2 linked regions of the Homo sapiens genome follow. The protein of the gene in region 2 purifies or fractionates together with the protein of the main gene of each other region. This does not show direct contact. Each region holds a gene or a part of one and is shown on either strand. Other genes may lie near its edges.

What was found.
Region 1: the proteins of PCNT (region 2) and CDK5RAP2 purify together in Homo sapiens (co-immunoprecipitation; 4 studies listed by BioGRID and IntAct, with this or other methods). This does not show direct contact.

What each region holds. Positions count from the first base shown.
Region 1 is NC_000009.12:120,436,805-120,444,892, forward strand, and holds part of CDK5RAP2 (CDK5 regulatory subunit-associated protein 2), read right to left. Parts: intron 6,939-8,088; coding exon 6,816-6,938; intron 3,169-6,815; coding exon 2,595-3,168; intron 724-2,594; coding exon 491-723; intron 1-490. UniProt on the Homo sapiens protein: Potential regulator of CDK5 activity via its interaction with CDK5R1. Negative regulator of centriole disengagement (licensing) which maintains centriole engagement and cohesion. Involved in regulation of mitotic spindle orientation.
Region 2 is NC_000021.9:46,326,350-46,334,437, forward strand, and holds part of PCNT (pericentrin), read left to right. Parts: coding exon of another isoform or gene 1-27; coding exon 28-240; intron 241-8,047; coding exon 8,048-8,088. Other genes in the region: uncharacterized LOC128092249, read left to right, coding at 1-142. UniProt on the Homo sapiens protein: Integral component of the filamentous matrix of the centrosome involved in the initial establishment of organized microtubule arrays in both mitosis and meiosis. Plays a role, together with DISC1, in the microtubule network formation.

The sequences.
Region 1 (8,088 bases), on a different chromosome or scaffold from region 2:
CAAAGGTTTCTTTCACCCTTCCTCTGGCCATCCTTAACTCTTCGATATACTTTTTAACTGATAAAAATTTTGCTTGGTTGACTGGATTTTTTGCTTGCCAACATTTAAAACACATGAGTTTTCACAAAAAAAAATAAATAAATAAAAAATCCCATCTTTTCTGGAAAATTTGTAAGATGCAAGAACTGGCAACTACGTGACCACTGCTGAGTGAGAGGCAGTGCCTTCTGGCTGGCTTCACTCATGTACCTCACCAGCCCGGCCCCTGAGGCGTCTAAACTGGACTCCTGGTTTGTAACAGTGCCGACCACAAGCCATGTGGAAGTGGTCACTGGGAGGAAGCAGCAGCCAGTGTGGTTCTGCTGTCACCTCATCAAGGCAGAGGGGTGAAAGATAACTAAGGCCAAGGAGTTAGCTCCTCCTGTGCCCCTCCAAGAAGTCCTGGGTCAATTACTGATGTCTTAAGACTCGCGTACCTCACCCTACCTACCGTTGAGAAATAGCTTTTCCAATTTCTCCAGCAGCTCAGCACATTGATTCAGCTGTTCCTGGAAACCCTCGGCCACACAGTAATCCACATCACTGGCCTGCAGCAACTCCTCAAATGCCTTAATCATGGTGTTCATGTGTTGACGGGAGATGACACAGATGCCATGGCCATCCTTAATCTGCTGCCGTTGAAGGGAGAGCTCCCTGGCTTGGGACTGAACTAATGAATCGTATCTGATAAAAGAGGGGAAAGAAAATACTTGGACCATTTTAGAATTGAATTTTTGTGACCTTAACACTAATTGGAAAAATGACAGAGTACAATTTTTAAAAGCCTGCAGCTGTACAAGTATATATACTTTTAGAAAAATTGAAACTGTACAAGGTCAGCTCTTCTTTGATTTCACACAGCCAACAAAGGCTGGAACAAAGATTCTTCTGCAACATTTTTAACCTTATAAAGCCCCCAATTAAAGTACAGATTGGCAAGAACTCAGGCAAACAATAAGTTTCCATACACTCTTCAAAAATACTATTCTGAATTGTAGAAACAAGTGCCCCAAGGGTCAGAGGATCTACCAAAAATTCTCATGAAGTGTGATAAAGAAAGTGTACCACAAAGAAAAAAAGACAGGACTCTCTCCTCCCGAACAAAACGTCACTGAATAATCATGATGCTAACTACCATTTACTGAGGGTCTAGGACCTGTCAGTAACTGAATTCAGTGCTTTATATGTTATCTGATCCTCTCAGTCTTCCAACAAATGTATAAATGTCCCCTTTTACAGAAGAATAAACTGACTGCAAAGCTAATTAAGTGGTAAAGATTTTGGATTCAAACACAATTCTCACTTTGAAGATCATTATGCAATATTACCTTTTTACCGTCATGTGCCACCTTTTCCTACGTGAGCCCATAAGAGAAAGACACTGAGAAGTAAACAGGTTAAGGGAAATGTGACTCATGTAAACTGGCCACAATAACCTTGCTCCAGAGAGTAGCTTGGCAAAGATGTTGACACTTCAGTTCAACATAATTTTCTCCTTCCTGGAAATGACAACACTACATGGGCTGGCAGTCACCTTCAACATAGAGTGTGCACATGCAGATTACATGATACCAGCATTAAAGGTGGGGGCCAGTATCATGTGAGTACTGGAGTAACATGGGTAAACATGGGTAACTCATGAGTAACATGAGTAAACATGGGTACTGGAGTGGGATGATGTGGGCTTGAACCCTGGCAATGGCTCTGACCAGCTCTGTGAATGTTCTCTGCCAAGTCACTGCAGCTACTTTGAGGCTCAGTTTCCCTACCTGTAATAACTAGTTTAAGAATACCTCCTTCTCAGGTGATTTTGAGGATTAGATAAGAAAAGTGCCTAACCAGGGGCCTGAGACAACAGCCTTTCAATAATTACAAGCTTCCTTCAATCTCACTGCTTGGGAAGTCTTGAAAAATTCATCCTGGCTCCTGACAATTCAGAACAATGTGTTTGACTCAAATTAGTGACAAATGAAGGTCAACTTTACTAATGATCCCATTTTTGCCATATCTCATGAAGCAAAACCGTATATATCTATGCCCATAAAGCATTATCTTCATGACCTAAGAATTCTTCTCTTTCAACACAAGCTTATTTCTCTAAGATGACCTTAAAGGGTAAAGATATGGAAAATATTTATATTCCTCCTACCTTGCCTAGACATCAGTTTTAGTTTCACAGCACAGCAAAAGCCAGTAACAGAGTCCAGGAGTACACACTGCAGTTCAGCAAAGGCACTATCACTCACCAAGTGACTGGTATGAAACCTTTACCCTGAGCCCCCAACTTGAGGAGGGCGAAATCTGCCCTGCAGATTTCCAGAGGACCCAAGACTCGTAACTGACGTTCAAGTGCGTGGTCGCTGTTCCTCTTCTTTGTGGCCTCACCTCTCCCTTCTCCACAGGACCTGGCTGCCTGAACCCCACCATCAAGCCTTCCCCAGAACACACTCTACCCATCACAGAGTAGTGTTCTCTTTTAGCTCATGGGCTCCCACCTAGTGGCAATACTGGGGGACTACAGGCTTAAACGGGGAGACGGCAGAGGTGGAACGTACCTGGGAGGTGAGAGATCTCTGAACTTATTCTGCAGATTATGGATCTCACTGAAAAGTTGCATGTTCAAATTCTGCTCCTTCTGCAGCTTGTATTCCTGTTCCTCCAGCTGCTGTTTGAGGTTCTCCAGCACCCTGCTGTCAATCATCTCTGGGGCCAGCGGACCGAGGATTTTCACGTGTTTCACGTATCGCACTTGGTGCAAACTTGAAAAGGTCATTTCTTCCCCATCAGAACCATTCTTGGGCTTGCTCAAGCCATCCTGGGCCCCTTCTGTCCCACACAAAACTGTAATTATGGCCTCACTGCACTGGGAGTGCTTTTGAAGCTGAAATATGAAATTCTGGTAGCCTTCCAGCTCAGTTTCCAAGTCATGGATTTTCTGTTTTAAGTATTCTGTCTCATTTGAGGTATTAATGCTCTCTGACTGATCAGTCCCCATCACACTGACTTTAGCAGAAGGCTGACTCTTGGAACTCAGGTAAGTAGCTACTGAAGTTGGGCTCAGAACATCTTCAGGATTTTCTTTGCATGATGGCAAGCTGGCAAGGTCATCAGGTGGGCAAATCTCAGAGTCTGAAAATCAAATACACTTATGTCAGTATCTCTTTTACTAAAATCCAAACCCTCTCTCCTTCCTCACAGCCCTAGCCAAGCCAAGACCACTGCAGTGACCTAACAAGCCTCCCTCAAAAAGGCCCTAGTATTTCCTAACACACTTCCCTCAAAAAGCCTCCAGTCTTTCCTAACAAGCCTCCCTCAAAAAGCCCTAGTCTTTCCCTCTTTACCCCTCAGTTGTCCTCTTCCTCAGAGTGACTGTTCTAAAAAGTAATTTTAACCATGATAAACCCACACACACACCCCCTAAAATTCATCGACATTCCCAGTATCTACATGAGACCTTCCATGATCTAGTTCCAGGCAACCTTTCCAGGAATATCTCTGGCACCACTCTGGAGATTTCCTACAAAATTAACCATGATTCCCTGCACATTGCGTGCTGTGTCATGCCTCCATGCTTTTGCATGGGCCGTGCCCTCTGCCTGGAACACCTTCAGCCCTCTATTCTACTCCTACCTAATGAACTCTTTCCATACCCAGATCTAATTTTCCTTCCTCTGCAAGCCCACTGCCAAACTATGCAAAAGTCACAACTCGCTGTGGTTCTGTAGCACCTTATGCATATTACTCAAGACAAATATACTATGTGCTGGGTGCTAAAGTAAAAATTTTAAGTGGCTTATTTATTGATTCACATAGCAATTCGTCATCTGAATGTAGCTCTCCCTCACCAGACTGCACGTTTCTTCACAGCAGAGATGTGGCCTTTCATTTTCACATTCTCGGCGTCTAGTACAGAACCTAACCCAGACCAGAAGTCAGTGCCAGTGTGAGAAATATTGAGAGATTCTGTGAAGCAACAGTAAAGAGTGGTAATTCTGAATATCCACAACACGTGACAGTCTTCTCATTTCCATGTCTAATGGCTTCCAGGAGATGCCCTGACATCCCCTTTAGTGAGGTGTTTCACTCACTCACAACACTGCCAGGAAATATTTCCTTATAGCTAGTAATAGCTAAACCCTTAGAGATGCAGTCAAACTTGTTTCAGAAGTGGAGTAGTACAGCAGAAAGAATATGAAGTTTGAAGGCCACACAGCCTGAGGCAAGTGACTTTACTATCCAAGAGCCTCAGTTTCCCCTGTGTCTAAAATGTAGAAAGAGATGTCTCATATGGTTGTAGTGCAGCTTCTGTTCTTAACCACTGTGCCACACTGCTGGCTGCCCAGGGAAAGTTCCGTTCAATATAGAGAGCTGTCTGAATACTTAAGGGGCAGCGGAATGTAGTAGAAAAACCTGTCTTTGAAATTCAACAGACATGGTTTCAAACTCTGGCTCTGTCACATAGGCAAGTTACTTGACCTCTCTGAGCTTTAGTAGCTTTATCTGTAAAATGGAAAGAACATCACTGAAAAGTTGTGTGTGTGTGTTTGTTTTTAGGGATTATATGGAACAAAATCTGCAAAAAGAAAAAAAAGGCTAGCACAGTGTCTGGCACATAGTAGTGAAGGAATCCAAGTAACACAAACATCCTCTAACCATTCCAAGATAGAAGGAGATGCCCTTCACCGGAGGCGTGCGTGCGAAGGCCAGCCTGGAAAAATGCTACAAAAGCAACAACGTGGGTTGGACTGGGTGACCTAGGAGATCTCTCAGAAAGAAATTCACACACAAATCCTCATCAGACTGCATGTCCCAATTTCTGGTTCTGCAATCTGCTCCTTGTGACTTGAGGTACACTCTTGTATCTGTTCATGATGCAAATACCATAAAGTATGGCATTTCATTTCAGAAAGCAGCTGCTACCTGACCTAAAGGAAGCATTCCTAATACAGTATTTTTATTATACACAATGTTATGATAATTACTCAATAAGAGCCTTGAGGGTGCAGACCGTGTCATCCATGTCTGTTTCTCCAGTATCTAGCACAGGGTCTGCGACAGAGAATGTACTCACCAAGTATTTCTGGCTGAACAAGAAAGAGAAAGAGGAACTGGGGAGGGAGATATCTCTCCATAAGGCTTTTTTTCCAGTGAATCACCCTCCAAGACAAGAAAATATCTTTGCTGTAATAACCTCATGATAATAGAATTTGGTCTGTACTTCATGGCAAGAAGCGTGTTCACTCATGGAAATAAAGATTAGTTCCCAGGACTTTCCTTAAGTAATTATGAGGCATCACTAGTACCCCCATTTTACAGAAGAGGAAGTTGAGGCTTAGGGAGCTTAAGAATTTGCTTAGGGTTCAGGGTAGGTAAGCAGTAGAGCCCCTCCTCAAAGCCTGGCAGTCTGCCTCTAACACTCTGAATGATGCTTCCCGAAGTAACACTCCTGCAATCCAATCTCCTGTACCGCGGTGCATGAGCAAAGAGAGAGAGAGTTCTTAACCCTCAATGTGAAGGCCAAGATGCCTGTAAAATCCTTTATTCACATCCCAAGTATCTGTCAAGGGCCTTGTGAAAAAGAAACAGCAATGAAGATGTCACACGCAGCACCCAGCCTCAGCTGCGCAACAATTAAAAGGTGGAAGTTCAGGCAGATGCAATTCACATACAAAGTTCTGGAAGCACATTCAGAAAAATGAAAGACATTCAGTAATGAAGGGAAGTACTGACAGGGAAAGGGAAGCTGTCGATTAGTTAAGAAGTCTGTATTAATAACTATCAAGAAGAAATCAAAAGATGTCCCCAAGACCATTTATGAATATTTGCATTATAAGAAATACTATAGTTCTACAACTTTCCACAATTCAGCTAAGGGGGACTTTATTGCCTGGTAGAGTAGCTTTCTCCTCAAAGCCCAGAACACGCAGAAGCATGTGACCATGTGTTCACTGCAGTGACTCTGGACCTTGCAAAAGTATACAACAGTGTATATACCACAACTCAGTATTTTTCCAGAGACTGGTGTCCCCATGGCCATCCCATGACAAATTTAGGATTCTTGAGGACAATTATTTCTAACAGAGTGAATTAGATCTGGATTAATAGTGATTTTTTTTAATGAAGGGGGAAAAATATCTAACATAAAAAGAATGTAGGCATTTGTTCATTCTGGTTGAATGAGAACATGAGTATTTGTTATATTATCTTTTGTGCTTATGTATGCTTCTAATACTTCATAATTTTAAAAAGAAAGGAATACAACTTGCCTCTGCCCTCACCCGTATCTCTGCACCTTTTCCACTGATCTGCCTGGCAAACCCCACAAACCCAGTCTCAGCCTCAGGCTCTCTTCTGACCCACTCCTCCTGGGCACACGGACCAACACCAAGCACACCTCAGCAACAGGCAGCCCCGCGCTGAATACTAACAGGCTGTTGGGATGATTGTCTCCTCCGAGCTGTGGGGTCCCTAAGAGCAGGCTGTGTCTTTTCATGTTGAACCACCAGAACCCAGCCCACTGCCTGGTAGAGAAGCATGCTGACACATGGACGGGTGGGTTCTGACATCCTACTGTACCTTGACTCTTCTCCTACTTACCAGCTGGGTGACCCTGGGTCAATTATTTCTTAAAACCTCAGCTTCCCATGTGTTAGACTGGAATGATAATAATGCCCTGAGAGGGCTGCTATGGGCTTAGTAATAATTTTTAGATAAAACATCCAAATGGTGCCTGGCACATGGAAGCTGTTCAATACACACAGGGGCTGAATTCTGACCAATCTCGTAGCTTCTTTGCTGATCACTGTCCATTTCCTTGTCTCTCCAGACAGAAGATGTGGTTTTAATTCCTTTCTGCTCTCCTGGGCTGTCCTGGTAGGCTGCTCCCACAGGGGGCTGAGCTACAGGCAATCACAAAGAGAAAGAAAAATAAATAAAACCGTAAGACCTGAAACTTAGCCAAGCAACTGAGAAGAACACAAAGATACAACAGGGAAAATAAAAACACTGGGGAGGCAAAATGCAATTTATAAGATAAAATTAATCTATCGAGCTGCCATAACAGGACATAAAAAGCATAAATATACTGCAGCTTGTCTGAAATGGTTTAAGTCCAGGCTCTCAAAAAGCTGAGTGAGAAAATGAATTCTATCAATTCGTGCCCATTTTTCCCAAGAAGAGAGAGGCCCTAGGGTCTCCTGGGCAACTGTTTGAGGTAGCACCTGGAGTTGAGGCACTCTGGTGTCTCAGCAAAAAATAAAAACAGTATTGAGTGCAAATGGCAAGCTAGGAGCCAGCATGGTGGCTCATGCCTATAATCCCAGCACTTCGGGAGGCCGAGGCAGGGGGGCCACTTGAGGCCAGGAGTTCAAGACCAGCCTGGGCAATATAGCAAGACCCCCATCTCTACAAAATATAAAAAATTTAAATTTGAATTTTAAAAAATGGCAAGCTATGGGCAAAGTGCCAGGGCCTCTGTTGAGCTGAGTTACCTTTGCCATAAAATCTTTCCTCCATGAAGGTCCCCACAACCCTGTATTGATTTAGTTAACTGCCACCTCCCCAAGCCCACACCAGATGGGGAGTTCTCAGAAGGCAGAGACTGCATCTGATTTATTTCTCTCCTACCCCCAGTGCATGAGGCTGGAAACATAGCAGGTGCTCAGGGAATGTTCACTGAATGAATGAAAAGATGTCTGGATGATGGTTGAATGGATTAGAAGAAGGTAGATAAGGAGGTGGTAAGGGAAGAGCAATTCTGCCAAAGGTCTTCTTATCTGGAAACCTCAACTATGGTAAACCCAAAAGAAAACTTAAAATTAAATGGAACATACCTTTGGCTATGGATCTTCATAAAATCCATACAAGAAGTATCACATACTAGGCTTTGTGAAACAGTAAAGAACATGGACTTTGAAATTAGGCAGGCTGATTCCCACCTAGCTAGAAAAGTTAGTCACAGTGTGACTGTAGCCAAGTCACTTTATCTCTGAAACTGCTGCCTTAACTATAAGATGGTAGTAATTTCTGTATCTGCCTCAAAGGACTGTT
Region 2 (8,088 bases):
TTACTACTTATCTACATTTTTGCGCAGCTTGCTCACTTCCGACAGAGAAAAACAAAAGGTGACAGTTCGCATTCGGAGAAAAAGACGGCGAAGAGGAAGGGCTCGGCTGTCGATGCGTCTGTCCAGGAGGAGAGTCCGGTAACCAAGGAGGACAGCGCACTCTGTGGAGGAGGGGACATTTGCAAAAGCACATCATGTGACGACACCCCTGATGGGGCAGGAGGGGCCTTTGCAGCTCAGGTAGATTTGCTCAATGTTGTATTTGAACATTTCGCTTATCTTCTAGTGATTTCTAGTGTGATTTACTAAAGATGGTCTTTGGTCTGTTTTTGCCTTTCAAAAGTGAGGAAAGAGGGTGTTATTTTAGTTTATAAAAAGTGAGGGCCGGGTGCAGTGGCTTACGCCTGTAATCCCCGCACTTTGGGAGGCCGAGGCAGGCGGATCACCTGAGGTCAGGAGTTCCAGACCAGCCTGGCCAACATGGAGAAACCCTGTCTATACTAAAAATACAAAAATTAGCCGGACATCTGGCGCACACCTGTAATCCCAGCTACTCGGGAGGTTGAGGGAGGAGAATAGCTTCAACTTGTGAGGCAGAGGTTGCATTGAGCCGAGATCACGCCAATGCACTCCAGACTGGGTGACAGAGCGAGACTCTCTCTCAAAAAAAAAAAAACAGTGAGTAAATTTTTATGGTTTTATTCTTTTTATTTTATTTTTTATTTTTTTGAGATGGATTCTCGCTCTGTCTCCCAGGCTGGAGTGCAGTGGCGCGATCTCGGCTCACTGCAAGCTCCGCCTCCCGGGTTCATGCCATTCTCCTGCCTCAGCCTCCCAAGTAGCTGGGACTACAGGCGCCCGCCACCACGCCCGGCTAGTTTTTGTATTTTTAATAGAGGTGGGGTTTCACTGTGTTAGCCAGGATGGTCTCAATCTCCTGACCTCGTGATCTGCCCGCCTCGGCCTCCCAAAGTGCTGGGATTATAGGCATGAGCCACCGTGCCCGGCCTATGGTTTTATTCTTAATAAATTTGGGTTTTCTTTTTCTTTTTTTTTCTTTTGTTTGTTCCAGACAGTGTTTTGCTGTGTTGCCCAGCCTGGAGTGCAGTGGTGTGATCACAGGTCACTGCAGCCTCAAACCCCTGGGCTCAAGTGATCCTCCCTCCTCAGCCTCTTAAAGTGTTGGGATTATAGGCATGAGCCACTGCGCCTGGCCCTGTTTTATCTTTATTATGTAATTTTGAGAAGTTTTGGATTAACTACTTGAAGACAAGTGTCAGTTGTTTGCTTTGTAATGGAAGACTGGGAGTTCTTCGTGTGTGGTCGTGTCAGCCCCTTTGATGGGTGTTTCTTGGGACATTTAAAACATAATATTCCTTCACATAGTTGTAAATGCACCTGCTTGTCACATTTGTCTTTTACCTTTTTACTAAACGTGAGATGAAGAGGGAAGGGGTGAAGGTGTTGCAGACATGGTGTGTTGCTGGAGGAGACTGGGTCTGCTGCTTGAGGCCTTGTGAGCTGCAGGGGCACCCCCATGGGCAGGTGTGGCAGGTGAGTGCACACTGAGTCCTGAAGGGGCTGGCCTTCCGGGCTCCTTGGGGGCCTACAAACCTGCCTGGAGGCGGGCTGTCCTTGGGCCTTTTGTATGAATTATGAACGAGGGCCTTAGGTGTTGAGTGTCCCTGCTGCTGCAGCAGAATGGGTGCAGGCTTTGATGTTTGCTAGGATTTGCTGGAAAACTGGTGGCCAAAGGCAGAATCTGGCTCAAGGTCATAATGTATGTATCCTGCTTTACTTAAAAAATTGAGTTGTTGGCAACAGTTAAAATTTGTGTTATTCTACCTACAAATCCTGAATTTTGCTTTTTATCTCTTGAGTGTTTTTGGTTGTTGGGTTGGTGTGTTTTTTTTTTTTTTCCCGTTTTCTTTTTAAGATACAGTCTCTCTGTTGCCCAGGCTGGAGCGCAGTGACGCGAACTCTGCTCAGTGCAACCTCTGCCTCCCAGGCTGAAGCGATCTTCCTGCCTCAGGCTCCCAAAGTGCCAGGATTACAGGATTTCTGCCACCTTGCTGGGCAGAAAGTTACTTTTGATATATTCTGGTTGCATATGTTTTTTGGTTTTTTTTGAAATGGAGTCTCACTCTTTTGCCCAGGCTGGAGTGCAGTGGTGCAGTCCTGGCTCACTGTAACCTCTGCCTCCTGGGTTCAAGCGATTTTCCTGCGTCAGCCTCCCGTGTAGCTGGGATTGCAGGCGCCTGCCACCAAACCCAGCTAATTTTTGTATTTTTAGTAGAGACAGGGTTTCACCATGTTGGTCAGGCTGGTCTTCAACTCCTGACCTCAAGCAATCCACCCACCTTGGCCTCCCAAAGTGCTGGGATTACAGGCGTGAGCCACTGCACCCGGCCCTCTGGTTGCACATACTTTTTTTTTTTCTTTAAGGCGAAGTCTCACTCTGTCATCCAGGCTGGAGTGCAGCGGCACGCCCTCTGCTTCCTGCAACCTCTGCCTCCCGATTTCAAGCGTTTCTCCTGCATCAGCCTCCCGAGTAGCTGGGATTACAAGTGGGCACCACCATGGCCGGCTAATTTTTGTATTTGTTTGGTTGAGATGGGGTTTCACCACATTGGCCAGGCTGGTCTCGAACTCCTGACCTCGTGATCCACCTGCCTCGGCCTCCCAAAGTGTGGGGATTACAGGCGTGAGCCACTGTGCCTGGCCTGCATAGACGTTTTAAAAGTAGTAAGCTGATAAATATATGTGGGAATCTCAGGATCCTATCAGAAAACCATTCCAAACTTAGCACATTTTGTGGTAAATTGTATTTGGAGACTGATGGGTCGTTAACATTAGAAGGCATGGTATAGACTCCTGATTAAACACTCATACTTTGCTGTTTCATCAGGTAGAGACTCTCTTAGTTTCTAACTCTGCTATTTGATGCATGCCTTCATTCAGGAAGATGATCTGATGAAAAGCATTTTGATTTTTGTTTTCAAAACCAGAAGGGCATATACCAGAAAATTAACAGTGGTGGTCAGAAAGGAATAGAGTTGTTGGTTTTTTCGTTGTTATGGTTTTTGGTATTTCCTACAATAAACACATTAGGTTACTTATATAACATTTTTTTTCATTTTAGAATTAACTATACCACTAATAAAACATGTATTTTGGACATCTTAAAGCAATCTATAAATAACAGGCCCATTACTGGTCCCCTTGACTTAGAGATGCACACGCACACTCACTGCACTTGCTGCATTTTGTGTCACCTCCTCGTGACCACAGTGGACAGGACACTTCACCCTCAAGCGTGGGGTGGTGTGGCAGATGTGAGGAGAGGTCTGCTTTCACAAAACTTGGTGAAACAATGGCAAGATGGCCAAGGTAAAGCATTCTGTTACTTATAACTGTTGCTGTGAGTAGTAACTTAACTGTTTAAAGCAGTATTTTAAAAACCAAAAGCTGGTAAAATGTAAGGATACTTTCTCTAGGAAAAGTATGTGCTCCTGCAGCCAGGATTCTTCATGGAATGAAGGCATGGCAGGGCCTGACTGATTTTCATCTCACATCGTCATCCTGAACTCCTCTGCACAGTTACAGCTTGACATCAGCAGAGACATACCTCCTCTTCCTGTCCATTGGCTCTAAAATGGTGGGCAAAGGTCAGGTACCAGTCAGCTTTTTCCACAGAATTCCTGACATTTTAATAAGCTAAACATGCAGTCATCAGGTATTAACCCCTATTGGATCTTGGACATCAGCTTTTTCCCCCTTTTTTTTGAGATAGGGTCTTGTTTTCTTGACCAGGCTGGAGTGCAGTGGCGCAATCATGGCTCATTCCAGCCTTGACCTCCTGGCCTCAAGTGACCCTCCTGCCTCAGCCTCCCTAGTACCTGGGACTACAGGCATGTGCCACCATACCTGGCTAACTTAAAAAAAAATTTGTAGAGACAGTGTTACACTGTGTTGTCAGGGCTGGTCTCAAACTCCTGTGCTCAAGTAATTCTCCCACCTCGGCCTCCCAAAGTGCTGGAATTATAGGTGTGAGCCATCCCACCTGGCTAAAATTTATTTTCTTTATACATGTATAGGTAAACTAAGTAGTATGTGTAGAATAGAGCCATTGTCTTTCTGCTGTACACTAAGTTAGGAATCAAATTTCTTAAGCCATTTTGTCAATTATGTATATAAAAACCATTGGTGCTTTAGAAGCAGATATTTCATTAACTTTTTTCTGATTATATCATTGTACATCATCAGTTCAGTCTAAAAAGGAGTTTTTTTCATATGTATTATAAAATATTTCATGATATTTGAGTTTAGTATGCCTTTAATCCAGTTGTAGATGTTAAAATAGGAGTAATTTTGTGTTCAAAATAATGATCTTCTGAAAAGTGAAATTCTAGGAAAGAGTCCACTGTTTAAAGCTAGCAGCTGGTGGCCGTGTGGCCGAATAATGTCCCAGGCCAGGGCACTCCCCTCTCAGATGGTTGGTCATGCTGCGTCGGAGATCAGGAATCCTCAAGGAACCTTTATGTTATAGTTGTACCAGTGCTTTAAACATAATGAAAGGTGCATTTGTTTTATTTTACCCATCTATAAATTGTGAGAGGTTTGGCTATGGAGAGTCTAGTGAGCTTATTGAACAGCATAAGAAGATAAGTGTGTGTGTTTGTGTGTGTGTGAGAGTGTGTGTATGTGTGTGTGAGGGGGAGGGAGAAGTTATTGTGCTTTCCAACATATAATAAATTGCTTACTTTGATCACTAACTGTTAGGTAAATACTGATGATTTCTAGCATAAGTCTTTTTTCTTTTTTTTGGAGACAGGTCCTCCCTCTGGCGCCCAGGCTGGAGTGCAGTGGCCCAATCAGCTTACTTCAGCCTTGACCTCCCTGACTCAGGTGATCCTCCCACCTCGGCCTCCCAAAGTGCTGGGATTACAGGCATAAGCCGCTGTGCCCAGCTGATATAAGACATATTTTTAACCAACTTTAAGATCTTAGTTTTTTTTCAGGATGGTTATAAGCGAAGGTAGAATTGCAGAAAGACTTTGTGGTAAATATTCAGGATTCGGCTCTGTTGCCTTACAATTTGTTAAGTGCATGATGGAAAAATAGTTGAAACAATGCAACAGCTGTCTCAGTTCTGAAAGTTAACTCAGAAATGGCAGAAAGCAAGGTCAGGCATGGTGGCTCCGAGCACTTTGGGAGGCCAACGTGGGAGGATGGTTGAAACTCTGTCTCTATGAAAAATATAAAAATTAGCTGGGCATGACAGTGCACACGTGTAGTCCCAGTTACTCAGGAGGCTGAGTTGGGAGGATCACCTGCGCCCAGGAGTTTGAGGCTACAGTGAGCTATGGTGGCACCACTGCACGCCAGCCTGGGCGGCAGAGCAAGGCCTTGTCTCAAAAAAAAAAAAATCATAAAAATAAAGCAATGGTAGAAAGCAGAATTTGACCTTTCAGTTACAGATGAGGAACAAAGTGAGGAGAGGCCATTTTTTGGTAAAAGAACCATCTGGCGGGACGCATTGGCTCATGCCTGTAATCCCAGCACTTTGGGAGGCCAAGGCAGGAAGATCACCTGAGGTCAGGAGTTCGAGACCAGCCTGGCCAACGTGGTGAAACCCCATCTCTACTAAAAATACAAAAATTAGCCGGGTCTCATGGCAGGCGCCTGTAATCCCAGGTACTCGGGAGGCTGAGGCAGGAGAATCACTTGAACCCGGGAGGCAGAGGTTGCACTGAGCCGAGATCGCGCCATTGCACTCCAGCCTGGAGGACAAGAGCGAGACTTTATCTCCAAAAAAAAGAGAACCATCCAAAAATTGCTCAGAGGTCAAGAATTTCAGAAGAAAATACAAAAACTTTGGCTGAAGAAGATTTAACTAGTGCTATAGAAGGCTTAAGAAGTGTGGTTCTAGCACTTTTCCAACTCATATTTGTATCAAATACCAGGAAAAATAGTTATCACCATTTATCATCTAGATTTCTGGGCCGTTTTACTGTTTTGTCATTTTAAGTTGTTTTACACGTAATTTACAGAAGTAAGAATAAAGCAATAATTTAAAACAACTTTATAAGAAATTTGATCCAACCTCTTTGTATCAAGTAAGTTTTGACACACAAACATTAGAAGTGTCCTCTTAAGGAAGTGGATGGTCCAGGTTCCTTTGAAGTGTGATCATTCATGTGAGCGGGCAGCTGATTGAGACTACTGTGTCCCCTTTTCGTCCCTCACTTCCTCTTGATTCTGAGAAGATTGATCTAGGGTATTGTCAAATGAAGACTTGTCTGAGATTTTATTTTCACGTCAGTTTTGCCATCATCATTGGCCATGGGTGCTCTCTCTCTGCATTCATCTTGTGACTCATCTAATGATCCCGAAAAGTCGACACTGTCATGTTTCTTTGCTATTTTGGGAAGAAATTGAAATGTTCTTAGTGAATCATCTTGTTAAAGCAAGCTAATCTGGGCACTGTGGCTCATGCCTGTATTGCCAGCATTTTGGGATGCTGAGGTGGGAGGATTGCTTGAGCCCAGGATTTTGAGGCCAGCTTTGGAACATAATGAACAGAGACCCTGTCTCTACAAAAAAATAAAAAATAAGCTGGGCACAGTGGCGCATGCCAGTAGTTCCAGCTACTCAGGTGGCTGAGGCAGGAGGATCACTTGAGCCCAGGAGGTTAAGGTTGCAGTGAGCTGGGATTGCACCACTGCACGCCAGCCTGGGTGACAGAGCAAGACCTTGTCTCAAAAAATTAATTAAATTTCTTTTTTAAAGTAGAATTCATGGCCGGGCGCAGTGACTCACACCTGTAATCCCAGCACTTTGGGAGGCCGAGTTGGGCAGATCACAAGGTCAAGAGATTGAGACCATCCTGGTCAACATGGTGAAACCCCGATTCTACTAAAAATACAAAAATTAGCTGGGCATGGTGGCACGCGCCTGTAGTCCCAGCTACTCAGGAGGCTGAGGCAGGAGAATGGCGTGAACCCGGGAGGCAGAGCTTACAGTGAGCTGAGATTGTGCCACTGCACTCCAGCCTGGGTGACAGAGTGAGACTTCGTCTCAAAAAAGACAAAAAAGAAAAAAAAAATTAGCCGGGCGTGGTGGCATGCGCCTGTAGTCCCAGCTACTCGGGAGGCTGAGGCAGGAGAATTGTTTGAACCCGGAGGCGGAGGTTGCAGTGAGCCGAGGTCATGCCACCAGCCTGGGCGACGGAGTGAAACTTTGTCTCAAAAAAAAAAAAAAATTACAGGCTGGGCACGGTTACTCACACCTGTAATCCCAGCACTTGGGGAGGCCGAGGCGGGTGGATCACCTGAGGTCAGGAGTTCAAGACCAGTCTGGCCAACATGGTGAAACCCCCGGGAGGTTGAGACAGGAGAATCACTTGAACCCAGGAGGTGGAGGTTTCAGTGAGCCGAGTTCGTGCAACTGCATTGCAGCCTGGCAACAGAGCAAGACTCCGTCTCAAAAAAAAAAAAAAAAGTAGAATTCATTAAGAAGAGGGGCAGGAACATCATTAGGGAAATTACTTGCATTATAAAAATGTTTAGAGCTGGCCAGGTGTGGTGGCTCATGCCTGTAATCCCAGCACTTTGGGAGGCCAAGGCGGGCGGATCACGAGGTCAGGAGATCAAGACCATCTTGGCTAACATGGTGAAACCCTGTCTCTACTAAAAATACAAAAATTAGCTGGGCGTGGTGGCGGGCACCCATAGTCCCAGCTACTAGGGAGGCTGAGGCAGGGGAATGGCGTGAACCCAGGAGGCGGAGATTGCAGTGAGCTGAGATTGTGCCACTGCACTCCAGCCTGGGCGACAGAGCAAGACTCCGTCTCAAAAAAAAAAAAAAAAATGTTTAGAGCTTGGGAATTGTTAATGCGGAAGGTGCACGTTCTGAACAGGTGGAAGTGAGCTCTACTTGTTAAATGAAGTCAGCACAGGCCTGCAGATAGAGGAGCTGGGAAGGGCCTGAGGCTGCAGCCCTAGACCTTGCTTTAAATGCTTCTTTCTGGTCCTCCCCTTCTTAGCCGGAGGACTGTGATGGAGAGAAGAGAGAGGACTTGGAACA